Linked DNA regions of Homo sapiens. Each later gene encodes a partner of the first gene's protein in a complex. Each region holds a gene or a part of one and is shown in the gene's direction. Other genes may lie near its edges. The genes, in order: HRH1, GNAI1 and GNAS.

Region 1 (11,092 bases):
CTGCTTCTGACTCGATTAAAAAGGTAATAAGCTTAGGTTTAGGTCCCACTTCTAAATTTACCAAGGGCTGTTGGTGGGACTCAAGAGACAAAGATGGAGCCCCTGACCTCCCTAGTCTTCTTCAAAAGCTGTAAGTGGGATGACTTTTTCTTCTTTTTCCCATTTGGGACATTGTCTTTCAAAATGACCTATTTTTCCACATTTGAAACATTTGTTCTGTGATTTCTTAGTAATATCTCGCCAGCTATTGGTGACAAAGTGGAGCTTTAACATTCCTTGTCCGAGGGGGTCTTCTGATTCTAGGCCAGCGTATTTTTCTCATTTGCTCTTTAAGCCTTTCTAAAAATTCTGTCGGTCCCTCATCTTTTCCCTGTTTTATATTAAAGGCCTTGGTAAGATTTTGGGTGCGGGGCACTAATTCTCAAATTCCTTTTATTACCATCTCCCTAAGGTCTCTCATATTTCCTTGATGGGCTATATTGTTGTTATCTCATTGAGGATCCTGGGCTGGGAATTATGTTCAGCCGCTGGAACGTTCTGACCGGGAGGATGTTCACGTTCCCGAATGGTCATAGCAGCCCTTTGTATCATGCTCCTTTCTTCTCCTGAGAATAAGATGTCTAAGATAGACATTAACTCGTCTAAAGTATATATCTGGGGTCCTAAAACTGATCGATCTGATCTGCCACTCCATAAGGGTCATCTAAGAGTGGTTTAAGCTCCTTTTTTAGGTTTAGGGGAAGGGTCTGTGGTGGCAGCTGCTTGGGGGAGAGGAAGGTTCTTCAGTCCAAACAAAACAGCAGTTTTTTATCATTTGCTGCTTTTTCTTGTGTTTGGTCCTTCCATTATCCTTCCAATATTCTAACGTTAGGCCTAGGGGACTATCAGAGGGTATATTATCATGATCATGATATTTCCTATCTTTTGTCTTACTTGCTGTATTTCCCATCCTGGAGAAAGAGTTTTTCCCTGAGTCCATGGGGCTCAATCTCTCTTACTAGAGATTTCTTGCACCCTAGTGAGTCTGTGGGGCTCAACCTCTCCTACTAGAGATTTTTCACACTCTTCAGCTTTTGCTTTATCCTTCTCCATATGCTTCTCTTGCGGAAATTTTCAAGTCCCTCTTAGCATAGGCAGGTTGGTATAAACCCCACAACAGGCAAGCTGCCTTTAAGCCATATGAGGTGACTACAGAACCAGATCCGGACTCTGCACTTGCTCTGCACTCAATTGTGTGTCTTACTCACACACTTTCAACCTCCAGGATGTCCTGACCACCAAGGAAATACTTCACTGCCCCCAAGGTTTTTCTTACCTTGGTCTATGCACAGAGTTACCTGGTCGCCACAGTATCTGTCTGCCTTTTCTTCCCTCATTGCTAGAGTCCAGGTTTATTCATCACACCAGGTGGGTCTCGATCCCTTACCCTTGAGGCCACCGCAACAAAGCAGCGGGCTGCGTCTCCTCACGAGAAATGATCTGAGACCCTCCCCGGAGGAGAATGGGAATCCCAGATGAACCCCCAAGTTTGTTAGAAACAAGTGCCTGGTGCCACAAAGAAAAACAGCACATAGGCAGAAAATTCCTCAGCAAGGCAAATTTACTTCTGCAGAAGGGTGCAGCTTGTGCTAGTCACAATCGCAAGAGCACACCAAGCAGGGTAGGGCAGGGGTTTTTAATCCCTAATGCAGTTCCTAGCACTTCTGTGTCCTTTCCGCATTGGCTGGGGTTGGACTTCACAATCTAAGCTAATTCGATTGGCTAAGATTTAAAATTGAATAGGGTCTATTAGGTGGGAAGGAAGAGGAACTATCCGTTACTAGGTGGGAAGGCATATCTGGACTTGTCTGGGCCTGGCGAAGGCAGGAAGGCTGTTTACAGAACAGGTAGCTAGGAGACAAGGATGTACAAGGAAGTTGGTCTTAAGAAACAAAGAACAGAGAACTAAACCTTTTTGAAGAGGAATTTATCATCTCTGACAGGAGGCTGCAGTGAGCTGAGATCACGCCATTGCACTCCAGCTTGGGCAATGAGAGTGAAACTCCGTCTCAAATTAAAATTAAAATTAAAAAATAAAAAATAACGTAAAATAAAAAATGGTTTCTCTCCCCTCTATGTGCCAGACAATGAGGAAAAGAGAAAAAGGAGACACCTCTGGAGGCCAGGGAGCTGAGAGCCACCTTGAGAATGCCAAGCTGGGGAAGTGTTTAGGGGAACTACTTCCTGCTTCCTTCCGAGCAAAACAGTAAAAAATAAAAATCCCTGAGACAATACTTCCTTAGCCTTATGAACCCCGAAAATCTGAGATAGGTCTCAGTTAATTTGGAAAGTTTATTTTGCCAAGGTTGAGGACGCACACCCATGACACAGCAACAGGAGGTCCTGACGATGTGCCCAAAGTGGTCAGAGCACAGTTTGGTTTTATACATTCTAGGGAGACATGAGACATCAATCAATATATGCAAGATGAACATTCCTTAGGTCTGGGAAAGGCAGGACAACTGGAAGCCGGGAGGAGGCTTCCAGGTCTTAGGAAGATAAGAGACAGATGGTTGCATTCTTTTGAGTTTCTGATTAGCCTCTCCAAAAGAGGCAATCAGATATGCATTTATCTCAGTGAGCAGAGGTCTGACTTCGAACAGAATGGGAGGCGGGTTTGCCCTAAGCAGTTCCCAACTTGACTTTTCCCTTTACCTTAAGTGATTTTGGGGCCCCAAGTTATTTTCCTTTCACAGCCTACTTTCTTCCTTCCAGAAGTGACTGTGGACAATTCCACAGGGTTTGGACTTGATCAGGGCAGAAGGTGAAGCTGCAAGGTATTAGATGTGGGAATGGAGAAAAATACAGGCTGGAGCTGTGGGTTTGAGTGTTGTCCTCATAGGAGGTGATGGCTGAGGGGTAGGTAAGTGAGAGGATGAGATCCCCGAGGCCGACAGCACAGAGTGACAGGAGCATAGGGCAGGACTTTGGGTCACCCAAGGAGACAGTGATGCTTTTGAAGAAGTCAGAGGAGGCCCCATCAGCAATCAGAGGATTGCTCTGATTGGCACCTCAGAGCTGGAGGACATCAAAAAATACCGCTGTAAGAAAGAGACCTGGAAAAGTCTTTAGAGATTGTCTATCCCACCCTACCCATTTGACACATGAGAAGATGGAGGCCAAGAGATCACTGAGAAAATAAATGGTAGAGCTTGGGCAAAATCAGTGCTGCCCAAAATGGTGTTTTTCCAACAAAGACATTTAAAAGGTTCCTTCCACAAGGATCAAACACCTTGGGGTTTTGATTTTTATCTTAAAAAGTTATATAAATTTAGCCTTCTACAGGCCAGGCACGGTGGCTCACACCTATAATCCCAGCACTTTGGGAGGCTGAGGTGGGTGGATCATGAGGTCAGGAGATCAAAAGGATCCTGGCTGATATGGTGAAACCCCATCTCTACTAAAAATACAAAAATTAGCTGGGCGTGGTGGTGGGCGCATGTAATCCCAGCTACTCAGGAGGCTGAGGCAGGAGAATTACTTGAACCTGGGAGGCAGAGGTTGCAGTGAACCGAGATCGCGCCATTGCACTCCAGTCTGGCGACAGAGCGAGACTCCGTCTCTAAATAAATAAATAAATAAATTTAGCCTTCTACTCAAGAACTTATCTGGCTTTGTCTTAATGTAAAAATAATTTCTTTTTGCTAAATTATTGAGAGAAATTTACTATTTATTAGTGTTTATCAGTTTTCTTTAAACTCACCACTTTTTGATGAATATGAAAATCTAAAAACTTGGCCGGGCGCAGTGGCTCACACCTGTAATCTCAGCACTTTGGGAGGCCAAGGTGGGCGGATCATCTGAGGTCAGGAGTTCAAGATCAGCCTGACCAACATGGTGAAACCCCTTCTCTACTAAAAATACAAAAATTAGCTGGGCGTGGTGGTGGGTGCCTGTAATTGTAGCTACTCGGGAGGCTAAGGCATGAGAATCACTTGAACCCAGAAAGCAGAGGTTGCAGTGAGCTGAGATGGTGCCACTGCACTCCAGCCTGGGCGACAGAGTGAGACTCTGTCCTAAAAAAAAAAAAAAAAAAAATGGCTGGGCGTGGTGCCTCATGCCTGTAATCCCAGCACTTTGGGAGTCCAGCGTGGGTGGATCACCTGAGGTCAGGAGTTCAAGTCCAGCCTGACCAACATGGTGAAACCCCGTCTCTACTAAAAAAATACAAAAAAAATAGCCGGGTGTGGTGGCACACTCCTGTAATCCCAGCTACTCAGGAGGCTGAGGCAGGAGAATCACTTGAATTTGGGAGCTGGAGATTGTAGTGAGCCAAGATGGTGCCATTGCACTCCAGTCTGGGTGACAGAGTGAGACTCCATCTCAAAAAAAAAAAAAAAATCTTAAAAACTCCTTCCAGAAGATTTAATACTTACTTTCACCCAACCACCCGACTTGAGTATCACCAATAACAGAGGATACAGTCCGTTTTCAGTAGAGCCTTAGTAGCAAAGGGTTTTCATTTTTATTTTTCAGATACAGGATCTTGCCCTGTCACCCAAGCTGGAGTGCAGTGATGTGATCATAGCTGACTGCAGCCTCCTGAGTAGCTAGGACTATAGGTGTATTATAGGACAATTTTTAAAAAATTTCATTGTAAAGACAGGATTCCACTGTGTTGCCCAGGCTGCAAGTCTTGGCCTCAAGTGATCATTCCACCTTTAACTCTTGCCCTCAAGCAATCCTCCCACCTCAGACTCCCAAAATGCTGGGATTATGGGTGTGAGCCACCATTTCCAGCCTACTAGCAAGGGTCTTGTTACATATTACTTGGCATGATTTATGTAATTTAAAAAAATTGTTTGTTTTTCAAATAGAAAAGTAAAATAACGAATATGCTTTTCCAATAACATAATCCCCTTCTCACTTGAGAATTTTCCTCTAAAAAGATATGCTAGATTTATTTCATGCTTTATGTGCCTCTGGTGTGTCCCCTTATAACCTCCTCCATATCATTTAGGGATGGTCTCAGCTGCAAGTAAGAACTGCCACAACAGTGATGTAAGCCAAAAAAAAAAAAAAAAAAAAAAGCAAAGCCAAGCAAAACAAAGCCCATTTAATTATTTCCCATAATAATAAGTCTGGGAGAAGAAGATTCCAGAGTTGGCTCAGCAGCTTAGTGACAGCAAGGCCCTAGGCTGGCATTTTCTTGGCCTTCCCGATGGTCCCAAGATGACTCTCATGGCCTCAAACATCACTTCCTCACATCCTGTCAGGGAGAAAGAGGCAAGTGAGCAACAACAATTTTTGTTGTTTTGATCATTTGTCAGAGAGGAAGAACGTTCCTAAAAACTCCGCCTCTGCTGTTTGACATCCTCATCCTATTCCTTGGCCATGGTGGTATCTCATGGTCACTCCTCTATCTGCCACTGTAAAGAGGAACTGGATTGCTATATTCTGCTTAGACACATGAGGATGCAGCCCACCTTCCCAGAACATGTGCGGAATTAGATTTCTACAAACACATTTGTCTTGCTTCTGCCCAACTCTCTCACTAGAATGCACATTCCATAGGGGCAAACATTTTTGTCTATTTTGTTCACAGCTATATTCTCAACACCTAGAAGAGTGACAGAAATTCAATAAATAGTTGTTAAGTGAGCAAATGAATGCATGAATAAGGAAAAGGGTACATGGCTATTGAGTAGGTAACCAGCAGTGTTGATCACCCCCAACAGCATACAACTCCAGTCTGATGAACATCATGCTACTAAGTGGCCACTCATCACCCAAGTCTCTGACCTTACTTTTTCTCTCTTTTCTCCCAGGGAGTGAGCCATAACTGGTGGCTGCTCTTGCGCCAATGAGCCTCCCCAATTCCTCCTGCCTCTTAGAAGACAAGATGTGTGAGGGCAACAAGACCACTATGGCCAGCCCCCAGCTGATGCCCCTGGTGGTGGTCCTGAGCACTATCTGCTTGGTCACAGTAGGGCTCAACCTGCTGGTGCTGTATGCCGTACGGAGTGAGCGGAAGCTCCACACTGTGGGGAACCTGTACATCGTCAGCCTCTCGGTGGCGGACTTGATCGTGGGTGCCGTCGTCATGCCTATGAACATCCTCTACCTGCTCATGTCCAAGTGGTCACTGGGCCGTCCTCTCTGCCTCTTTTGGCTTTCCATGGACTATGTGGCCAGCACAGCGTCCATTTTCAGTGTCTTCATCCTGTGCATTGATCGCTACCGCTCTGTCCAGCAGCCCCTCAGGTACCTTAAGTATCGTACCAAGACCCGAGCCTCGGCCACCATTCTGGGGGCCTGGTTTCTCTCTTTTCTGTGGGTTATTCCCATTCTAGGCTGGAATCACTTCATGCAGCAGACCTCGGTGCGCCGAGAGGACAAGTGTGAGACAGACTTCTATGATGTCACCTGGTTCAAGGTCATGACTGCCATCATCAACTTCTACCTGCCCACCTTGCTCATGCTCTGGTTCTATGCCAAGATCTACAAGGCCGTACGACAACACTGCCAGCACCGGGAGCTCATCAATAGGTCCCTCCCTTCCTTCTCAGAAATTAAGCTGAGGCCAGAGAACCCCAAGGGGGATGCCAAGAAACCAGGGAAGGAGTCTCCCTGGGAGGTTCTGAAAAGGAAGCCAAAAGATGCTGGTGGTGGATCTGTCTTGAAGTCACCATCCCAAACCCCCAAGGAGATGAAATCCCCAGTTGTCTTCAGCCAAGAGGATGATAGAGAAGTAGACAAACTCTACTGCTTTCCACTTGATATTGTGCACATGCAGGCTGCGGCAGAGGGGAGTAGCAGGGACTATGTAGCCGTCAACCGGAGCCATGGCCAGCTCAAGACAGATGAGCAGGGCCTGAACACACATGGGGCCAGCGAGATATCAGAGGATCAGATGTTAGGTGATAGCCAATCCTTCTCTCGAACGGACTCAGATACCACCACAGAGACAGCACCAGGCAAAGGCAAATTGAGGAGTGGGTCTAACACAGGCCTGGATTACATCAAGTTTACTTGGAAGAGGCTCCGCTCGCATTCAAGACAGTATGTATCTGGGTTGCACATGAACCGCGAAAGGAAGGCCGCCAAACAGTTGGGTTTTATCATGGCAGCCTTCATCCTCTGCTGGATCCCTTATTTCATCTTCTTCATGGTCATTGCCTTCTGCAAGAACTGTTGCAATGAACATTTGCACATGTTCACCATCTGGCTGGGCTACATCAACTCCACACTGAACCCCCTCATCTACCCCTTGTGCAATGAGAACTTCAAGAAGACATTCAAGAGAATTCTGCATATTCGCTCCTAAGGGAGGCTCTGAGGGGATGCAACAAAATGATCCTTATGATGTCCAACAAGGAAATAGAGGACGAAGGCCTGTGTGTTGCCAGGCAGGCACCTGGGCTTTCTGGAATCCAAACCACAGTCTTAGGGGCTTGGTAGTTTGGAAAGTTCTTAGGCACCATAGAAGAACAGCAGATGGCGGTGATCAGCAGAGAGATTGAACTTTGAGGAGGAAGCAGAATCTTTGCAAGAAAGTCAGACCTGTTTCTTGTAACTGGGTTCAAAAAGAAAAAAATAATAAAAATAAAAGAGAGAGAGAATCAGACCTGGGTGGAACTCTCCTGCTCCTCAGGAACTATGGGAGCCTCAGACTCATTGTAATTCAAGCTTTCCGAGTCAAGTGATTGACAACTGAAGAGACACGTGGCTAGGGTTCCACTGGAGAATTGAAAAGGACTCTTGAGCCCTCCTGGAATGGAGCTGTATAACTGTGCAGAGACTTTATCCATGCCAATAGTTGCTGTCCCCTTCCAGGGGTCACCTTGAGAGGCATGACAGCTGTTCCACAGGGGCTATCCCTTCTCAGAAAACTTCTCTTCTGAGCCTCTTTAACAGCTTTCTCCAGAACCAGTGTCTGAACCACCCTGGAAATTCTGCCTTATTATTTCTTACTCAAACATGTTTAGAGTGGATAGAAAATTATGCAGCTTGCACACCCATCGTCTTTAACCCCAAATTTCCTTTGGCTATTAAAAAAGTGGTGGCAAAAGACATCCTCAAAAGAAAGAGAAATGAAATATTTTTGAATGGTTGCACGTTAAAAATTAAAAGAAGGAATGGGGGCAGAATGCCATATTTTTGAGGGCTGTACTAGGTTTATCTCATTTAAGCCCCACAACACCCCACAGGAGGGTAATTTTCTAACTCTAGTTTGCAGAGGAGCAAATTGAGGTTCAGCAAGGTGAGAGAGGTACCCAAGGTCACATAGCTAGTTATGTGAGAAAGTTAGAGTACAGATCCTCTGGGGTTTCAGCTTATTGTAGCATATTTTCTCCGAAAGGCAAAAATGTGCCCTTTTGGCCGGGCATGGTAGCTCAAGCCTATAATCCCAGCATGTTGAGAGGCTGAGGTGGGCAGATCATTTGAGGCCAGGAGTTCAAGACCAGTCTGGCCAATATGGAGAAACCTTGTCTCTACTAAAAACACAAAAATTATCTGGGCATGGTGGGGCATGCCTGTAGTCCCACTTACTTGGGAGGCCGAGGCACGAGAATTGCTTGAACCCGGGAGGTGGAGGTTGCCGTGAGCCAAGATCACGCCACTGCACTCCAGCCTGGGCAACAGAGCAAGACTCTGTCTCAAAAAAAAAAATACAATATTTTAACAATGTGCCCTCTTAAGTGTGCACAGATACACATACACGGTATTCCCAAGAGTGGTGGCAGCTCAAAATGATATGTTTGAGTAGACGAACAGCTGACATGGAGTTCCCGTGCACCTACGGAAGGGGACGCTTTGAAGGAACCAAGTGCATTTTTATCTGTGAGTTCTGTTGTGTTTGTCAAAAAGTCATTGTAATCTTTCATAGCCATACCTGGTAAGCAAAAACTAGTAAAGACATAGGAACATGTAGTTTTACTTGGTGTTTATGTTGCAATCTGGTTGTGATTTATATTTTAAAGCTTGGTGCTAAACCACAATATGTATAGCATATGGAGTGCCTGTACAAGCTGATGTTTTGTATTTTGTGTTCCTCTTTGCATGATCTGTCAAAGTGAGATATTTTTACCTGCCTAAAATATGATGTTTAAAAGCATACTCTATGTGATTTATTTATTTCTACCTTTCTGAGTCTCTTGGACTAAGAAGATGTTTTGAAATGTACCATCAAATGTTAACAGAGTTTGATATGGGCTTTCTCTTTGGTTTCTCATCACATTTGTAAATGTCTTTTCAAAAGGATTTACTTTTTGTAAAAAGCTTCATTCTCACTCTGCTTTGCATCCCCCAAACTTCTTGTTCAAAACGGGGGGAGTTTAGGAGACTTTAATCCCGGTTTCAGAAGCTGCAGCTGGTCTGTTTCCAGGTCAGAAACCATTGTTCAGAAGACCTCCCTGTGAGAGAGTTGCTCCTCAGGGTCCCTCAGGACCAAAGAACACTCGAAAAGAGCACTTCACACAGACAAGTGGCTAAGTGTCCATTATTTACCTTGAACAATCAAGGCAACTAGTGGAGAGAACTGATTGTGAGCTCTGCCTCTGGGTCAGAGAGACCTGGATTTGAGTCTGACAAGAACAAGAAATGGTCAATAAATATAAATTACCAGCGTCTAAGGAACAAGGTCTATGCATTATTGTATACAGTGTCTCTAGTGCTTGTATAGTGTCTGGTATACAGAGGGCACTCCTATGCATTTTTAAAACATGCTGAGCACATACCATGTGCCAGGCTTTGTGTTTTATCTAATGTTATCTAATGGTATTGGTGCCATTATGTAATGTTGCCTTTACAACAACCTCATGAGGGAGATTTCCATCTTTACAAATAGGCAAACTGAGGCCCAGAGAGATTGAGGAACTGCTCCGAGGTCTGATTCTGGAATGTGCTTCCTTTCCACTTTATCAATCTGCTCTTCGTACTCCTGTCTGAACGATGGAAATTAATTTTTGAATGTATAAAAGACAACAGACTATGATACAGAAATGTCAGCCCCAGCCCACTAAGAAAGCCCCAGCCCATCAGTGGCTAATGGCTTTAATAAATTGGTCATTTGGCTACTTGGCTTGTGGACAATCTCTGACCTCTTTTGAAGATGGGCACTGCATGGACTTCCAGGAGGTGGATTTAATAGTCTTAACTCAGCATGAAAAAGATGCTGGGATGCTCCTGGCTATTTATGCACCCTAAGTGCCATAGAGACATGCTGTTGGCAAGGCATGGTGGCTCATGCCTGTAATCCCAGCACACTGGGAGGCTGACGCGGGCAGATGGCTGGAGTCCAGGAGTTCGAGACAAGCCTGGGCACCATGGTGAAATCCTGTCTCTACTAAAAATAAAAAATTAGCCAGGGGCTGTGACGCACACCTGCAGTCCCAACTACTTGGGGGGCTGAGGCAGGAGGATCACTTGAGCCCAGAAAGTTGAGGCTGCAGTGAACCAAGATTGGGCCACTGCACTCCAGCCTGGGTGACAGAGAGAGACTCTGTCTTAAAATGAAATGAAATGAAATGAAATATAAAATAAAATAAAATATAGAAACATGCTGTTAAAGATCTTATTTGCCAATATTTATCATTCCACAATTTGTCAGGCTTTCAAAGCCTAGCTTGACGTGACATATAATTCTCATTGTGGGGAGCATGTACTCTTCTCAACTCAGATGCAAGACAAATGATGAAGGTGGATTGACCTGAATCACTGTAGCCTTGAATAAGTGTCACAGGGCCTCATGACCCTGCTGTGTCTGAGAACATTCTCTGCCTCTTTAAGTCTCCTGGGTCTGCATCTTTCTTAATGCTCCATGGTCTTGGAGCCCCAATGGTCTGCCTATCCCATTCCAGGCAGCAGAGGCAGGTCTTCTTCCTTAGCCTCACCCTATCTTCCTGCTAACAAGGAAGCCTCATTTGTCGTCTGAGCAATCATTAGCTCTGGTCCCCATATCTATTTTGGATTCCCAGACCTTATCTGTTAATTAACAAATATTTTTCCAGCACTTCTTATGTCTGGCCTGAGCCAGAAAGACATGATTTCAACCCTGTGGAGCTACTTCAGGTTTGCAAGTGACAGAAATCAACTTTGTGAATAGTTACTA
Region 2 (9,929 bases), on another chromosome or scaffold:
ACAACGGGTTTAAGCTGCATGGGTCCACATATATGAAAATTTTTTTCAACCAAGCACATTCATGGGATGCAAAACCTGAGTATACAGAAAGCCACTTTTTCCTATGTGTGGGTTCCACAGAACTGCCTGCTGGACTTGAGTGTATGCACATTTTGGTACCCTTGGAGGTCTTTGTACTAATCCCCCTGAGTATACCGAGAGACGATTGTATTTTTAAAATCAAGTATATGAAATTATAGTGTAGTAGGTGCAGTGCAACACCACATGTTCATTTCTTTCATTTCAGCACTATAAAATGTATCAGTGCCCTCTTTGATGAGCACAGATCCTGGAAGGTCAAGAAACAGGAATTGGAAGTGTCCTTCCAGTATTTATATTTATTATAATATTTAGAGTATTGGGCTAATTGGGTCTTAGCTTGTTCAATTTAAGTTATTAATCTTTAAAAACCTCTATTTATCTTCTAATGGAAATTTAGATGAAATGAACTCTATGACAATGTCATTTCTTTTCACATGTTCACACTTCACATCCCTAGATTATAATGTCCTGTAGCAGGATATTCCCTGGCACAGAGCATGACATATAGTGGGCACTTGGCAAGTAAAAGTTGAATGCAAAAAGTGGTGAAAGATGATTAGACACTTCTCTTACCTAAAGTGAAAGTGTGTTCTGAAATGGCAGAAATGTATTTTTGTGATACGTATTTTTCAATCACTAAACTCTGTTTTATTACAACACCTTTTATTTTTTAAAATAGTCCTCAAAAATCCTTGCTGTTAGTGACGATTGGTTTTATTTTTTTCTATTACAGAACCGAATGCATGAAAGCATGAAATTGTTTGACAGCATATGTAACAACAAGTGGTTTACAGATACATCCATTATACTTTTTCTAAACAAGAAGGATCTCTTTGAAGAAAAAATCAAAAAGAGCCCTCTCACTATATGCTATCCAGAATATGCAGGTATTTTCCTTTTCTGGGAATAACTTGTCAAGTTACATATTTCTAAGTGAAACTTCCCCTAAGGCAAGAATTCAGTTGTTAATTTAAATCTCTTGGCTTAGTGATTCTTAGACCTTTAAGGGGTATTATTTATCAAACTGCAGTTGAGCATAAAAATTTCCTTAAGATGTAGATGAAATTACTGAAAATAATGTATTCATTTTATGGAAAAGCAGTTAGATAATTTTTAGTGATGACTCCAAGTTAAAATACTATTTTTTAAATCCAGTTAACAGATTTCATATCAGGTACTGTGTGATGTACAATAAATAAGACATGTCTCTGCCCACCATCTAATCTGAAAGACAGACATACTTAAACAACAGGCAATAGCAGTGCAACCTACTGCTAAAATAAGGAACATGAACATTATAGTAAGGGGAAATGAAGACAGGATCATTGAGGCAGCTAACTCTTCCAGAAGGGCAGGGAAGGTTTCACAAGAAGCCAAAACTTTGGTAATGAGACTGTTAATAGTGCTTTAATTTTACTATGATGGAAAATTCCCTGGAGTGAGGAAAGTAGACCTGAAGTACAGTCCTGACTTTTCCATAATTAGCTCTTTGATCTTGAACAAGGCAGTTAGTTCACCTAGGTCTCAGTATTCCATCTGTGAAGTCAGGAGTTGGGCTAAAACATTAGTTTTAGTTTAATTTAGTTCCTTGGAGCACCTCCTGGGTTGCTGTTGAAGGCGGAAATGGGAGAGGGAACAGAGCTAATTACTGCCCCCTGCACCCACCACCTTATAACTTTTTCATTAAAGCAGAGTAACTCAGCTTTCATCTGGTTTATGTATTGAGTAAAGTTTTACTTTAGTGAAGAGCATTCAGTATGCCTTAAAAAAACAGGGAGTTTGATTACCACTGGTTTATGTAATCTCCAAATCTAGATAGTTTGAAGAGTTTAGTTATTTACCCTCACCCCACTCTTCCTGTTTTTTTTTTTAAAAGTCTCAAGAATTTGTTTTTTTATAAACAGAATTTTCCTCAGTCTTGTGTTGAGTAAATTGTACGATGAGTATTCACTGCCATTTTACAGGAAATGTTAAGACAACCCTGTGATGTCAGTGCTCAGGTATCCCTACCCATACAAATGAGAATACCGGGGCTTCCTGAAGCCAGAGTCCAGTTCCAGACCCAAGTCCATTGTCCTCCTGCTCCTAGACCATGAACGACTAGGCTACATTTAATTAAACATTCAGTGGAACCAAAAGGGGAGGGTTCTTTGGTAAATATAATCATGTTACTTATAGCTCTTTTTGTGTACGGTGAAATTACACTTCAGTTCAAACTAATTTCACACATTTACTTACTTTAAAACTTTGCTTTCTTTTTGAAAGTCAAAGTCCTAAATCACTGTATTCAGCAACATTTTTTTGTGCTTATTAGAAATAAGCTACCCAGAGTCAAGATGGCTTAATTTTTCCCTTATTTGAATATATTTTTCAGTTTATTTTTATCATATTCTATGATGTAGCCATTTTGTACTAATTCATAGTACCAGATTCCCCAAGTGAATCCATAAATATTGTATACCTACGGGGATTTTAGAGCAACTAAGAATATACTTGTTAGCTCTTTCCTTGCCAAGTAGACAGTGTGTTTAGGAATTTTTGCTTGTGTTTTGCTTAAGTTAATAAGAATACCTGACTTCAGAATCTTTGCACAAAAAGAATATTACATAATTCTTTCACATCCCCAGAGTTAAGATTATTGTTTAAGATCTCCATGGCATGCCCAAAGTATTGATTCAGTTGCTTCTTGCTTCAGCCGCAACTCTCAATTTCCTGTGGCTGTGGAAGAACCCTGTGTAGCCCCTAAACAACTCACTTGATTTATCTCCTGTCTGTCTGCTCCTGTGTTACCCTTCTCCTCCTCTTCTTTTTCCTGTATGTTGCCACTTCACCAGTTTCATCTGCAGTCACGTCATCTTAGCTCTCTTATCCTTTCATAGTCGTATCTATTCTCAATAGGTTAAATTTTGTGGTCAGCCCTAATTTCTCTCTGGAGCCTTAGATTTACATTAGCAACTGCTTGAACATACATGTTTTGTTGTTGTTTGGTTGGTTGGGTTGGTCGGTTGGTTGGTTGGTTAGCACCTGAAGCTCAAACAGAACTCTTTTTCTTGTTTACACTCAGATCTCTTCTCTTTCCCTTTTGATTGTGTCATCAGCCTCCCAGTTCTTCATTTTTGAACCTGGTTATCACCTATACTTACCTTTGTTCAGGACAATTCTATCACACATTAAAAAACAATCTATCATATTTGCTCTCCTGTCCCTGCTTTGCCATTTGTTTCTTAAGACTTAAAATCAGAATGAAGAATGTTCATTCATATGTGTTGTAGCTTTTAGGGTAATCTAGCTAGCTGCCTAGGATATATAGAGCAAATTGAGCTAGGCACTCAATGTAAGCTGTTTGGCTGAAGCATAGTTTAATTTAGCAGTTGCATTAGCTTCTGTGGGCCAACAAGATGCTGTTGATTGCTTTAAAATTTTGGAGAACGAAACTTATGATTTAATAAAATTTGATTTTTAAAAGTATGTGATTTCTAGTGATATAAAAGAGTTAAAATGTAAACTTAAAGACGATAGCTTTAGTACCTTTTTATCCCTAATAAAAATCTCATAATCTATGCTGTCATAGCACATTACACAACATTCCTATGGGCATTTGTCACATTGTATTACACTGGATTCTATAAGATATAAAAGGAGTATGAGGCTTGTGGGGTATGATATTTACTCTTGAAGAGTTCACATTCTAGTTTAGGAGATTCAGCACTGAAAAAGAATTTAAGACTCTATAAAGCAATATAACAAAAACTGAAATAGTTATTTCTAGGAGGAGGAAAAAGTTTTTAAGTGATAGAGAACCCAGCTAGATTTGATTAATTAGGAAAAGTTAGATGGAGTGCCAATTTTGAGCAAATGTGAAGGCAGGCAGAGATCTCAGCCGGTGAAGTAGAATGAAGAGGAAGTACTACAGTACCACAGGTGGCAGTTTGCATGTTAGGTCCTCACGACATGGACCTGGGGTGAGCGCCAGTGTGGAGGAGAGGATCTCAGAATGATGGCACTGCAGAGCAGGCTGGGTAGTAGAGGACCTTGAAAGTCTGGCAGATAATTTTGGATTATTACTACAAAAGAGGGGTTTAAACAGTTTTTTTCCAAATGAAATTTGAATGTTTTTCAGTTTTTTTATTGAAGCATTACATAGAGCATTACATTATATACATTAATGTATATTATAATATTATGTACATACATACATACGTACACACACACCCTCAGCATAAGTGCGTGTTTAAAGGTTAATGTACCAGTATCCACCACTCAGGTCAAGAAACCAAACAGCTTCAGGACCCCAGAAAGCCCCATCATGCTTCCTCTCAGTCTTAACCAATCAAACCCTCCCCACAACACACACATAACACAATCACAACCCATACACATAGTAATCACTGATTACTCACTGATAATCACTGAAGACCTTAATAAAAGAAAGAACACAAAGGAAATATACACCCACTTCACATGTTCCACAGACACTATTGGTGAGGTTTTTGTCCTCACCAGTTCATTTTTCAAACATTGTTGGATCATACAGTATGCGATCTTTTTGCATCTAGCTTCTTTTGCTCAACAGTACACTTAGGAGATTAATTCATGTTACTGAGTACTTTCATTCTCACTTCTTCTGTGTCTTCAGTGATACACAGTTCTGTCAAGTGTATATCTAGAAACTGAATTGCGGGGTCAGAGTGTGTGTGTGATTATCTTTAGATATTGCCAAACAATTTCTGGAGTGTTTGTACTCAGAGGAAGTCTTTTATAGTCAATAACCTGAAAGCTGGAGTGTGTCATTCACTTTTTTTGTAACCTCATACTCCTAAACATCATTGTAGACCTTGGTACAATTTTTGAATAAAGAAAAATGAGTGAAGAATGCAAATTAATGTATATATAGAAAAGGGAGGAAAAAATACTGATCAGCATTCAGCCAACATTTTTTGATCCACCATTGGGCCAGAACTGAAATAGCATGCCGTCGTCAAGCATCTGAGCTGGGGTGTAGAGGACAGAGGATAAGAGGATAAAAGATCTGGCATTTGAGGATTGAGGCAGGAACAAAGATCATGATGAACACGGAATGCCATGTAAAGGAAATTTTTTGTTTAAGGGATAACTTAGTCATTAAAGGTAATTAACATGGAGTGTTTTTCATTTAGAAGAAATAGTGTCTCCCATTCTAGAAGGGAAAGCACAGTTAAGGAGTCCATGAATGAAACTGTATGAAACTGACTTCAGTTTCATATGTATGAAACTGAATTCAGTATTTTAAGCAGTTATTTTAACTTTTTGCATTTATGTTTCTTTCCTTTTTCCATCTCAGGATCAAACACATATGAAGAGGCAGCTGCATATATTCAATGTCAGTTTGAAGACCTCAATAAAAGAAAGGACACAAAGGAAATATACACCCACTTCACATGTGCCACAGATACTAAGAATGTGCAGTTTGTTTTTGATGCTGTAACAGATGTCATCATAAAAAATAATCTAAAAGATTGTGGTCTCTTTTAAGTTTTGCAGTTCATGGTAAAATGCATTTTCAAACCAAATGAGTACTTATATATGGATCTCTGTAGACTAGAGTCTTGCAGCAACACAGAATGTAATATAAGGCAAATGCATCTGGGACTTGACCAAAGTTGTTCTGTTTTGTTTTTTTAACTGAAAGTAACAGAAGGACCTTTCTTAAATGTGACAGATGGTCCTGCAGTGTGAAACTGAAGGACAGTGTTAAAGCTGGGCTCTAGTATATTGATGATTTCTGCATAAGTGTAAATATGCAAATGTATGTATACATGTATTTATGACTTTAGTTTTCGACATTATTTTTAGGTTTTAAGAGTGGCAACTTAGGATTTTAGGGTGATGGCTTTGGAAATAACATAAATATACCTTGTACTGAATGACAGACTATTACTACGTTTGCCAGTTTTAAACAGCTTTATTTATGTTCATGTCCTGTAAATTTTTAAGTACAGTAATTAATATTAGGAAACATTACAGCCCTTATCTAGATTATATGTATACTTGTATTAATAAAAATGTTATTTGTACAAACATTGCACAGACTATTTTAATAACATGATTTGTTCTTTAAATTTTATGTGTTTTATTGAAATGTTCTTAAGATGAATACACCTGCCTTTGGATCAACTATTTAAACATTGTATGCATTTTGATTTTTCCTACTTTAAGAAAATAAAATAATTTAATTTTACATTAGATTCCACGTTAGATTTGGTTTGAAAAACTAAAATTTCAGATTTCTGAGGATATACTGTCTTAGACTTATTGTACACACTTAGTTTTTATTCACTTGTTTTCACTCTGAATTTTAATATTTGGCTGATATGAATGCATTGCCTCAAAGGTGATGTCATCTTAATTTTTATTCACTTTAAATAACTACATTTTTGTTTATAACTAAGTTTGGAGGGATCCTAAGAGCATTTTTGTGGGTAAAAAAAAAACCTGTGGACATAATGAATTTTGAGACATTGATTGGTGAGGCTTTTATTTCCCTTGAGGAGTCTCTTGTACCTAGCATACATGATAGCTCCTTGTTGGGAAGATAACAAGAAGGATCTTTGAATACTCTATTGCTGATATAATGCAAGATTTAAATTTATACATATAACTAATTTCAAATGTAATTATCACACTATGTTAAAATTACTTTTTTCCCTTAGATAATTCAAATTTCTCCACTTGCTTGAGATTATATCATTTCTTTTTCAATTATACTATTATTTCTGAGAATGAAATGGACGATTACACTTAGAAAATGAGTAATAGTGTTTAATAAGTCAGTGATTATATGTGTGCTCAAATAAGTGTTATGTATCAGCTAGATACTGAGCTTTGATAGAATAATTTTCTTTTGATTATTCATGATGTGTCATCTCTGACCTTGTTTCAGCAAAGTAAACAGCACTCCCCACCCCACCCTCCTTTTTTTACTCATCTTGGAAAAGGTTAGTCTTTCAGTACACGTTGCTGGTAAGTAGTTTCCAAGTTACGTGTTGTCACTGGGTTGAAGTATATTTGTGTGTGTGTGTGTGTGTGTGTGTGTGTGTGTAACCATAAACTATATTCATATCTGTTTCATTTGGAGGATTTTCTTCTTTGTAATGTAAAGAAATTCAAAGTTATCAAAGTTCCTTAAATGTGTTAGTTTAGATTCTTTATGTGCCTTTCATGAAAGATATGTTTTCATTAATTTTACTGGTGGACCTGTAATATCCACATTGTGAAGCTGTGTATGAAATTCAACTATAATATGAATAAATTTGAATCATGAGAATTATGGGTTAAAAAGCCACAAAGAAGCACATATTGGTGACCATCATTAATGAAATCCTGAACTTTATTCTGTGTAATTGTGTTAATAAATCCTAATAAATTTAAATTTTTAAAATTTTACAAACCTATTGGCTAAGTACATTTTGGATTAGAATTTAAGTATCAGTCTGTTGTTTCTTCATTTCTTCTTTTTCTATGCTCTTTTTACAATTTCAGCTACTCCAGAAGCTCAGATTTTCCCTGTTCCAAGCTATGAGATGTGATGCCACATTTGGAATTGCCTTCTTGATATCCCCTTCTGAGAATGCATTGCCTGCTTTTTAACTCATTATATTCAAAACTAAATTCATCATCATTCTCTCCTTACACCAGTTCTCACCCTGACTTTGCCATTTTTCCTTACTAAGTACCATCATCATTTATTCCTTCAATGGGGAACTTTTTAGTTTAAGTTCTGGGATACGTGTGCTGAACATGCAGGTTGGTTACATATGTATACATGTGCCATGGTGGTTTGCTGCACCTATCAACCTGTCATCTAAGTTTTAAGCCCTGCATGCATTAGGTGGAACTCTTCTGATTCCTAATCTCCATTTCAATTTACTGACAGTTCTACAAAGCCTTAAATCTGTTTTTTGTTTGTTTTCCTTTCTATTCCTACTACTACCTATTCAAGTCTTTGCTAAACTTCCTCTTAAAATGGCATTATTAGTTAAATTCCCCACCTCCCATTTCTCTCTTCTCGAAAAACCCAGGTTAGTTATCCTAATGTAGAACTGTGGCCCTATCACCTTCTATTCCTTGATCTGCATTGGCTCTGATTTGTCAATAAAATTAAGTATAAGTTAGCCTGCCATTTAATGCTCTTCATCACCTGAGGCCTGTTCCTTTCTACACTGTATCCAAATAGTGTCCTGTGCATAACCTGGGCTTTCCTCCAAGTACTGTATTACTTACTACATGTGATATGCTTAGAGCAGTGCCTACAATGTGGGAAGTGTTCATTTGTGTCTGTCAATGTTATTTTTATTAGCACTTTTAAAATGGTGTGTAAAATGTATTGGCACTTTTAAATTTGGCACTTTTAAATTTGTTTGTGATACCTCTTTTAGACTCCTCTGGCATCTGTTCTTCAGGGTGCCCTTCTGGGAACTACATGATTCTGATAGAGCTGCCAATCGCATTTCTTACTTCTCCGTCTCTAGGCTTAGACCTGACCAATCCGAGTCCTCCAGCATTGGACGAGTGAGCCAATCATTGTCCCAGTTGCCATTCTTAAAGTCCCTAAGGCGCTTGTGGTTTCTAAAATTCTCTTCATTTCAGTAACCTTCTAAAAGTCTACTTTTTTATGCCTAATCTAGTTTAATCGAATTCAGTTTGTTACTGAAAAAGTACTGATTAAAATCCATATGTTCTCATTGAATACTGACAGTAACTAGAGATCAAAAAAGGCTTAAAGAGGTTAATTAACTTGAGCAAGACCAGATGAAGGTTTTAAACCTAGAGCTTCTGACTCCATGTCTGTCAGAGGACCCCAAAGATGCTACCTTATTTCCAGAAAATGTGTAAGTAGTGTTTCGCCTATCCCCACTCTGCCCTTGAGTTCCTCTGAGCCATAATAGTTTTTCAGATTTAAAAAAGGAGATACTTATTAATGTCTTTCATCAGAGCTATTTTTTACTCCTTAGATGTGAAGCTACTTAAGAGCACAGTTACCATTTTTTACATCATTTGCCGTTTGCAGAACCACCTTATGTAAATGAATTTAGTTGATACTGTAATCATTATTACAGATGGTAGCATCATCATTGCTTAGTGTGTTATGTTGGAAGTAGAAAGTGATGGTGAAAATCCTAGGCTCTGGCACCCCGTCTGGCTTCAAATCCTGGCTCAATTTCTTATTAACTGGGAAAATCTGGGCAAATAATTTAGTTTTGCTCTGCCTCCATTTATATCATCTGAAAATAAATAAGGATTAAATAATCCATTAATTTTAATGGTTGTTGTCAGCATTAAATAAGTTCACAGTACATGTTAAGTACCTAGAGGGGAGTGTGGAATGTATAAGCCGTCAATACAATTTGCTGTTATTTGATTATAAATAATAGTTTTAAGGTGCCTTTAAAATCATAATCAGTGCTTAACAAATGGTTGTTGATACGTGCTTTGAATGAAATGCCTCAAAAACAAAACTCTCATAATTCGTTTTCATAATGAAAACTAAGTGTCTCACATATTGATACTGGAAAATGAGAAAATGCAATCTCTAATCAACTTGAGGACACTTCTGTCGTTTTAATGTAACCAATAGTATGAGAGAGTTTATATTTTAATGTTAGGTTGGAAATTTTCTTTTTTTTTTTTTTTTTTTTTTTTTGGTATGGAGTCTTGCTCCTTCACCAGGCTGGAGTGCAGTCGTGCAATCTCCACTCTCTGCAACCTCCAACTCCATGGTTCAAGCAATTGTCCTGCCTCAGCCTCCCGAGTAGCTGGGATTACAGGCATGCGCCACTACACCCAGCTAATTTTTGTATTTTTAGTAAAGG
Region 3 (7,770 bases), on another chromosome or scaffold:
GCCAGAATCAGATTTCAGATTTGTACACAAGGCCTGAAGCTCGCTCACCTCCCTGTCATCTGTGTTTCTGAGATTCTCCGGACCTGCAGCACTTTTACTTAAATGGCCCTGAGGGGATTCCTGGCAACATCTGTCCCCCCTCCCCACCCCAGACACCCCCCACCACTAATGAGCGTGGCCCCTCTGAACTTCCCCAGCTCTTCACCCAATGTAGAAGAGCAGTGGTGCAGTGACCTGTGAAAGGGGCTTCACGTAGGAAGGGGGCGAGATGGGATCCTTCAGCAGGTGAAGGCCCAGAAGTACACAGACATTTATTCAGAAAGAATAAATTTGTAAGTATAATTCTTTGAGAAAGGAAAGACCAAATGATTTGTGGAAGGCCTGTCGACAGGCCCGCACTTGACCCCACCGTCCGTCCCCGCCCCCCACCCCTGCTGCTCCACTGACTGCCCTGCCCTGCTCGTCTGCTCGTCTGCTCTTGCTAATTAACCTCCCTTCGCCTTTCCTCTGCCTTAACTGTCGTGTTCTAGTCTGGAGAGATTATATGTTTTAATTTCTACTCCAGTCTATGAATTGGTGAATCAGCCAAGTGAATGCTTCAAAAACTGGGACTCTCAAAAGATTAAAAAATATATATATACAAACCGTGAAAAAGATAAACTCTGTCCCCTCCATCTCCCATTGGTTTCTGCCTCGGTGACTCCCCCCCTCTTGGCCTCAGTTTCCCTGTCAGAGAGGCAGGACCGTAGCACCTTTTTTCCGCATGACAACGCCCTCACCTCCCAGGGCCTAACAGGTACAGCAGGTGTGCTGTGTGTGCTGGTTCCATTTTTGGGCTATAGACCTGATGAGATACATACTCCACACAAGAGGCCTTTTCTTGCCCTCTAAAAACATAAACTCGAGAACCTTCCCTGGCTGTGCTTCTAATGAAGGCTAGTTTCTGAAAAACATACAGCATTTGGATCAGTGTAATGTGGTACAAAAATTAACATTCTGTTATGGTCCCCAGAAGCCAAAGGGTGTGTCCTTTACCTGTGGGACCAGTGACCCTGAATATAGATCATTCCATAAAGACCACGCAGGCCATCCCATGTGGCTGAGTTAAACTCAAGGAAAAGCTACAAAACCTTCAACCTCTACTTACCAGAGGGATCTGACCTCCCCTCCCCCTTAGATTATAAGGCCTTCTAGGGGGTGGAATCTTATTTGATTCCTATTGCACATGGACCAACATGCACTAACATCATGAACTAGAAGTTTCATTGCTGCTAGCTGCAGTGCCTGGAGCATCGCACATACGACTTTTTTTTTTTTTTTTTTTTTTTTTTTTGACAGAGTCTCACTCTCGCCCTGGCTGGAGTGCAGTGGTGCCATCTCAGCTTACTGCAACCTCCGCCTCCCGGGTTCAAGCAATTCTCCTGCCTCAGCCTCCCTAGTAGCTGGGATTACAGGTGCATGCCACCATGCCCAGCTAGTTTTTTTGTGTGTTTTTAGTAGAGACGGGGTTTCACCATGTTGGCCAGACTGGTCTCCAACTCCTGACCTCAGGCAGTCTGCCCGCCTCAGCCTCCCAAAGTGCTGGGATTACAGGTGTGAGCCACCGCACCCGGGCTCCTGTAATGAACTATTATAAACACCACCACCTGTGCTCACTGGTTCTCTCAGTATGCTAGCAACTGAGTTAATTCCAAGTCAAACCATGGGACTGTTTTGTTCCACCCCAACCTCATAGTGACCTATCACTCCAGCCTCACCCCTACCCAGATGTTGATAGGACCAGGAGAAGCCTTTAGGAAGTGTTAGTATGTAGTGTGGGGGCTTCAAACCCATGAAAGATTAAATGAGCTGCATGCAACTTCTGGTACAGTCATGATTGCTAAGGCAATTTGCTAATCTGCCCCGATTGGGCGTGTCCTCAGGGCACATTTGGGAGGTTATAATTTGCAACTATGTTTATTCAGCTACCTCCAATCTTTGCACAGATCCGAACCCACAACTCCCTGAAGAACAGAATACTATGCTTTTTAGTCGGGATGTCTTTATGAAAGCAGTACTCCTAACTGACATGGTGCAATATGATTTTCTTTTCTTTTCAATCCCACTGCAGTGAGAAGGCAACCAAAGTGCAGGACATCAAAAACAACCTGAAAGAGGCGATTGAAGTACGTGCTGGCTCCTTGTGCTGTCTGTCTTGTAGCGCCCTCCCAGCCAGTGCTGTTCCCTGACCGCTTTGCTAAATCATTTTCAGACCATTGTGGCCGCCATGAGCAACCTGGTGCCCCCCGTGGAGCTGGCCAACCCCGAGAACCAGTTCAGAGTGGACTACATCCTGAGTGTGATGAACGTGCCTGACTTTGACTTCCCTCCCGTAAGCTACACCCCGACTTGTGTGGCCTTAGCCCCGCCCACCTGAGCACAGTGTCCATATAGGAACATGAGTGACAGCCCTGCACATGGGCAGGAGCATCCAAACCACACTTCAGGCAAAACTACATTTCAGTGATGTCCATCCTTAGGAAAAAGTTAATTTCATGTGTAACCTTAATTTAATAATAATAATCATTAGGGCTTTGTTCAAGATGGATGAGCAAAATTCTGTCACCCCTTCTACATCTTAGCTCACCTGTCCTCACAAATAAACATCACTCTTGAATACTACAATCTCACTTTATTAGATTGTAAATTTTTATGAGGAAAAAGGTCCTGAGCTATGGCAGGCTTAATTATTCCCTCATTCACATCTTAGGACAAAACTGTATGTTAAATATGGCACACAAATACTAATTGTCCATTTACTCCACTGGAAGTGCCCTAAGGTACCTTGGGATGCCTCAGTGAAGTGCCAAATGGAAGACATTCTCATTTTAAACAGGTGACCTTTTTATTAAGAGTTTTCTAAAGTCCTTGGGGCAAATGAAATCTTTTCTCATTATTAAAAAAAATGAAATATATCTAAATCATAACTCAAAAATCATAAAATAGAACATATGGAAAAGACTTTCCTCTGGATGCACGACACTGTTGGCTCCCTAAAGAACTACTTTTAGGGAACAAAAAACTGTTCAAGCCCAAGCATATAAGTTTAGGCCCCTTCGTGGGGAGAATGGCTTATAAGCGGGGAACGGGAAACGAGATGGAAAGATGTATGCGTTTGTAAGACCCACAGGGAAGAGACTTGTCTACAGCTAAAACAATGAGTTATTGTTGCCTTTTGTCAGGCTTTCGTGGGAATTTGTGTTTGTATATTTTAGATGGACTTGGCTGCAAACTTAAATTGGAGAAATTTAGTGGTATATAGTTAGTATGGATAGCTAAACTTTTTAAATAGCATTATTTTGAAAAAAAAGCAATAAACACAATATGTATAATATAACCCACTGACTTTCTTGAAATATGATTCTATATTTAATAGGAAAAGGAAACAGCAGCCTATTAAAAATGTATCAGAACAATAACTTTTTATTAGTCCTACTAACATCTGAACTTTTATGTTCCTACCTACAAGTCCCCCATCATCATTTTTTTTGGTAAGATTCACATTTTCCCAGGAGGAAAATTTAGTCCCAGCACATCTTACAAATGAAGTTTCTTATTTTCACAACATTGAACCATTTATTGGCATATTCTAACACATTTAGTGTATATTCTTCCTAAACAATTCTGTGAAGAAACTAAATTACTCAGTAGCTTACCCCATTCCCCCTACACACGAGAAAAGAAACTACCCAAAACCAGTAATTCACAATAAGACCCAGCAGCTAATTGCGTGAACTTTTGAATATGTTTAACGTGTTGAATTAAAGTTCTTTGTGAGCATTAATTCATTAATTGGGCTCAAAATTCAAAATCACACCAAGTGTCGGTCACATAGGGAACTCTGGTCTCAGGGTTTGAATGACAGTGTTGTTGATTAGTTCAAGCTCTTGCCTTTCTCTAAACTTTCTTGTGTTCACTTTCAGGAATTCTATGAGCATGCCAAGGCTCTGTGGGAGGATGAAGGAGTGCGTGCCTGCTACGAACGCTCCAACGAGTACCAGCTGATTGACTGTGCCCAGTAGTAAGTAACCGCCACCCAACCCATCAGCACATAAAACAGACAAAAACAAGAAAACATGAAAACCTGTGATCCTGCTTTGAAAGTTACTTGTTGATGATTCCTTTCTTAGAAGCCAACCAGTTACCCCACTGGCAGAAAGTTCTAATCTGATTCAATTGTTTATTTATAAAGTCCTTAATTGCATTTTTTTTCTTTTAGTGCAGCGACATTATTTTACATAAACATTTAAAGCCTGTTAGAGCAAAATGATGATGAGTTTCATAGTATTCCTAATTAGTAGGAAGTAATTAATTGAATTGACCCTAAGCATTTAGGGAAATAGGGCTGTGCTCACATTTTGAATAATGTAAAAATACTATATTTTATTGCTGTAATTTTAAAACATAACAAAGAGGAATGGTGAAGACATAGCTACGCCTCCTCTCTCCTTGGTAGTTGTTGATTGATCTATTTCTGCTCTCAGGTAAGCGACTCTAGTAGCTGCCTAGTGTTACTAGATCCTAGTGACTCTAGGTAGAGTTTGTTTTTGTGTTGTCTTGACTTTTGAACTCTATTTCATATCCTTATTTATTCCTTCTCACCGGGTCTTGATTCAAGGATGGTAAGTGGTCAATGGATTTTAAATCCTAAACTGTACACCTAAGCAGTACAATACCGTGGTGGGGTTATTTTCAAATAAAACAAATTACTACCTGCGAGGAGGACAGGTTAAGGCCTGCAGTAGCAATGGGAAAAGCATCTTTCTCCAAAGTCACTCATAAAGGTGGGCTCACCTGGTTGGTGTGTTGGCAAATGAAGAAGGGGGAACTTAAAACACAGACTTTATTGCACAACTCTACCTGATGCCCAGGCTGCTTCCCTTGCTGCCTAACACCTGACTTACCATTGCCTCAGGGATCGCCCTCTGTCCCTGTCACCCACCATGGTCTCTCCCAGAGGACATCGTACCCGATAGCTAGAAAGTTGCCTTTGAAATAGTTTATGGCTTCCCTCATCTTGCACATGATATAGCAAGCATGTGGTGGTCAGGGTTATTTAAAAAATATGTAAACATTATTATTATTTTTTTGAAACGGAGTCTCACTCTGTCACCCAGGCTGGAGTGCAGTGGTGCGACCTTGGCTCACTGCAACCTCTGCCTCCTGGGTTCAAGTGATTCTCCTGCCTCAGCCTCCCGAGTAGCTGGGACTACAGGTGCCTGCCGCCACAACCAGCTAATTTTTGTATTTTTAGTAGAGATGGGGTTTCACCATATTGGCCAGGCTGGTCTCGAACTCCTGACCTTGTGATCCACCTGCCTCGGCCTCCCAAAGTGCTGGGATTACAGGCATGAGCCACCGTGCCCAGCCAAAAATGTAAAGATATCTTCTGTTTGTTGATGCTGCAGAAATGCACAAAGCAGTCTCAGTTAATGATATTCTGAAGTAGGAGTGTCCTGTGACTTGGGGCAGGGGAGTCTAGTAGAGGTTTGATGTTTTAGCCATCCTTATTACAAGTAGCTGAAACTCGGAACTGATTTTGCTATAGGAAGTATTAGCTAATCAGAACCAAGGTGCCAGGCTGACTCACCAAGGGCTAAGATTGCTTTACTTAGTAGCCTCAAGCCCAAGGAACTGATTGTGAAAACCACCTGAATAAACAGGAGGGAGGAAGAGGTAATACTGTTCATCTATAAATCATATAAGCCTCTGTTAGGGTCTGCGCAATCTATCAACCCCAGCCCTGCCTTCCCATAGGAAATTCCTTTATTTTCAATTGCCACATACATAGATATTCCACGGTTTAATATACAAGCAAATGTGTATATTTTTTCAAGGAACAGAAAAAAACAGTCCATCTTGGCTGGTCCCTATGGCCCCCAGCCCCCACTCCTTCTTCAACAAAGTCCCTGATTTTCTCAAAAGTTCGAACCAAAAGCTGGAAGCGCTAATTATAGTAACGCAAAACAAATGGAAATCCTGGAATTGTTTGCATTTTGTATTTTGGATCCAAGTCAGAAGTTAAGTACAGGTACAAGATTAAGAGAGTTTAACCACCCCAGTTTTGAATGCTGGGGGGGCAGGGAGACCCAGTTTCGTTAATTAACAGTAGCTTAGCCAGATTGTTGAATTTTGTCGGGTTTCGTTTTCTCTCTCAAATCATTTAGAAGTTTTTGGGGTTTTTTTAAGCAACACTTAATTACTCCTGAAACTTTGTCTGAAAACGCACCATTTGTATAGATCATGAAAAGTTTTAAGGAAACTCAGAGAAAAAGAGAACAACGCAGCTTAAAACTTTTAAAATGTCCTCCCTCACCCGTGGCTCAAACAGCCCTGCATCTGCCGTGGCCGGCACGTTTCTGGTTGAACTGCCTTTATGTTAAAGTTCAGATACTGGTAGTGTGCCCATTTCTTAAGCTGTCTATTTTTATTTGTTGAGCTGGGGTTTGGCTGGCTCCACTCCAGATGTCTCTCTCACAAGATTTGGTGCTGATGATCTATTTATAGAACTGTGGTTCTGTTGCCATGGTAACATGCTGGAGGCCAGGGCGGCTGGGGAGCTATTTCTGGACTGGTGCTGTAATGTAAGATTGATTGGGCAAGTTAGTATATCCTCTAAGCCAGACTAACTCTGAACTAGTAAAAAGGAAGAGGGGAACAGAAAACTTAGGCAGTTTCTTTAAATAAACTTTTCTCTCTTTATGATTTTCTTTTCTCGTTAGCCCGCTTTAAAACAATTCCAATCTCTACATGCCCCTCCCTCCAAAAAATAACTGGTTTTAACATTAATTTTCCATATTAATTACCCCAATCTTTCAAAAGTAAATTTTCCTGTGTGTCTAGTCAAGCAACACAAACAAGATGCTTTTTTTAATGAAAAGCGTAATATCTGGAGTGTTCTATTTCATGGACCAAACAGAACGGAAGAGAACTTTGTGTTTGTTTCCTGTTCAGGATGGCTAGGGCGAGAAGGGCCCCTTTGTGCCAACCTCTTTTGTTCTCTTTAATCAATGAGATTCTTAAAAAGTAAAAAGGAAGGGATACAGATTCTCAGTAACTAAAACAATCTCGTGTGCCCTTGAGGGGAAAGTCCTTGATGTTTTTAAGAATGTCACTTTATTGTTTTTTAACTGAATGATATAGAGGTATACAATTTTCAAACTGTTTGCCATTTTAATCAAGCAATTTGAAAATTAAAATGTTTTTGTCAGGCATTACCAAATGGCACAGAATGTGATAGGCCAGCCTGGTTTTGGGGTCCTTTCTCTACTGGTTGATATGCATAAAACCTTCTAAAAATCAAGAATATTGCCAGAGAGCAACAGGAATAAAGAAGCTAAGTAAAGAATAAAAAAGAAAAATAGAAAAAATAAAAATAAACACGAAGAACAAAGCCCCACCACCGTGCTGTGCTGTTTGTGTGGCCCCACTGCGTCGAGGCCACAGGCTAGCTGCTAGACGCATCTAGAGTTCCCTGATTCCTAAAATTATTTATCTTAAATCCTGTTTGCCCTAACCTTCTTAAGGCATCAGCTTTGAGTTACAAATGTAACCAACACACAAGCAAATGTGCCATTGACTTAGTGCTGCATAACTGTGGGACGGTCACTTCCGTTGAGCCTGACCTTGTAGAGAGACACAAATAGTTGGCAAATTGATGTGAGCGCTGTGAACACCCCACGTGTCTTTCTTTTTCTCCCAGCTTCCTGGACAAGATCGACGTGATCAAGC

What was found.
Region 2: the proteins of HRH1 (region 1) and GNAI1 are in contact, whole or in part, in a cryo-EM structure (PDB 9LRD), measured with the Homo sapiens proteins. Residues at the interface, in NP_000852.1 of Homo sapiens: Arg125, Ser128, Val129, Pro132, Leu133, Leu136, Lys137, Thr140, Ile213, Val217, His220, Cys221, Arg409, Lys412, Ala413, Gln416, Leu417, Cys471, Asn472; in NP_002060.4 of Homo sapiens: Arg32, Asp193, Leu194, Asp315 (codon at 5,470), Phe336 (codon at 5,533), Thr340 (codon at 5,545), Asp341 (codon at 5,548), Ile343 (codon at 5,554), Ile344 (codon at 5,557), Asn347 (codon at 5,566), Leu348 (codon at 5,569), Asp350 (codon at 5,575), Cys351 (codon at 5,578), Gly352 (codon at 5,581), Leu353 (codon at 5,584), Phe354 (codon at 5,587).
Region 3: the proteins of HRH1 (region 1) and GNAS are in contact, whole or in part, in a cryo-EM structure (PDB 9LRB), measured with the Homo sapiens proteins. Residues at the interface, in NP_000852.1 of Homo sapiens: Asp124, Arg125, Ser128, Val129, Gln130, Pro132, Leu133, Arg134, Leu136, Lys137, Arg139, Thr140, Ile213, Ala216, Val217, Gln219, His220, Cys221, His223, Lys412, Ala413, Gln416, Leu417, Cys471, Asn472; in NP_000507.1 of Homo sapiens: Gln35, Arg38, Ala39, His41, Lys216, Val217, Asn218, Phe376, Cys379, Arg380, Asp381, Ile383, Gln384, Arg385, His387, Leu388, Gln390, Tyr391, Glu392, Leu393, Leu394.

The regions. Positions count from the first base shown.
Region 1 is NC_000003.12:11,253,196-11,264,287, forward strand, and holds the end of HRH1 (histamine H1 receptor), read left to right. Parts: exon of another isoform or gene 1-23; intron 24-5,807; 5' UTR 5,808-5,842; coding exon 5,843-7,306; 3' UTR 7,307-10,362; downstream 10,363-11,092. UniProt on the Homo sapiens protein: G-protein-coupled receptor for histamine, a biogenic amine that functions as an immune modulator and a neurotransmitter.
Region 2 is NC_000007.14:80,211,902-80,221,830, forward strand, and holds part of GNAI1 (guanine nucleotide-binding protein G(i) subunit alpha-1), read left to right. Parts: intron 1-814; coding exon 815-968; intron 969-5,401; coding exon 5,402-5,592; 3' UTR 5,593-9,929. UniProt on the Homo sapiens protein: Guanine nucleotide-binding proteins (G proteins) function as transducers downstream of G protein-coupled receptors (GPCRs) in numerous signaling cascades.
Region 3 is NC_000020.11:58,901,421-58,909,190, forward strand, and holds part of GNAS (protein GNAS), read left to right. Parts: intron 1-2,107; coding exon of another isoform or gene 2,108-2,110; coding exon 2,111-2,165; intron 2,166-2,251; coding exon 2,252-2,371; intron 2,372-3,962; coding exon 3,963-4,060; intron 4,061-7,741; coding exon 7,742-7,770. UniProt on the Homo sapiens protein: Guanine nucleotide-binding proteins (G proteins) function as transducers in numerous signaling pathways controlled by G protein-coupled receptors (GPCRs).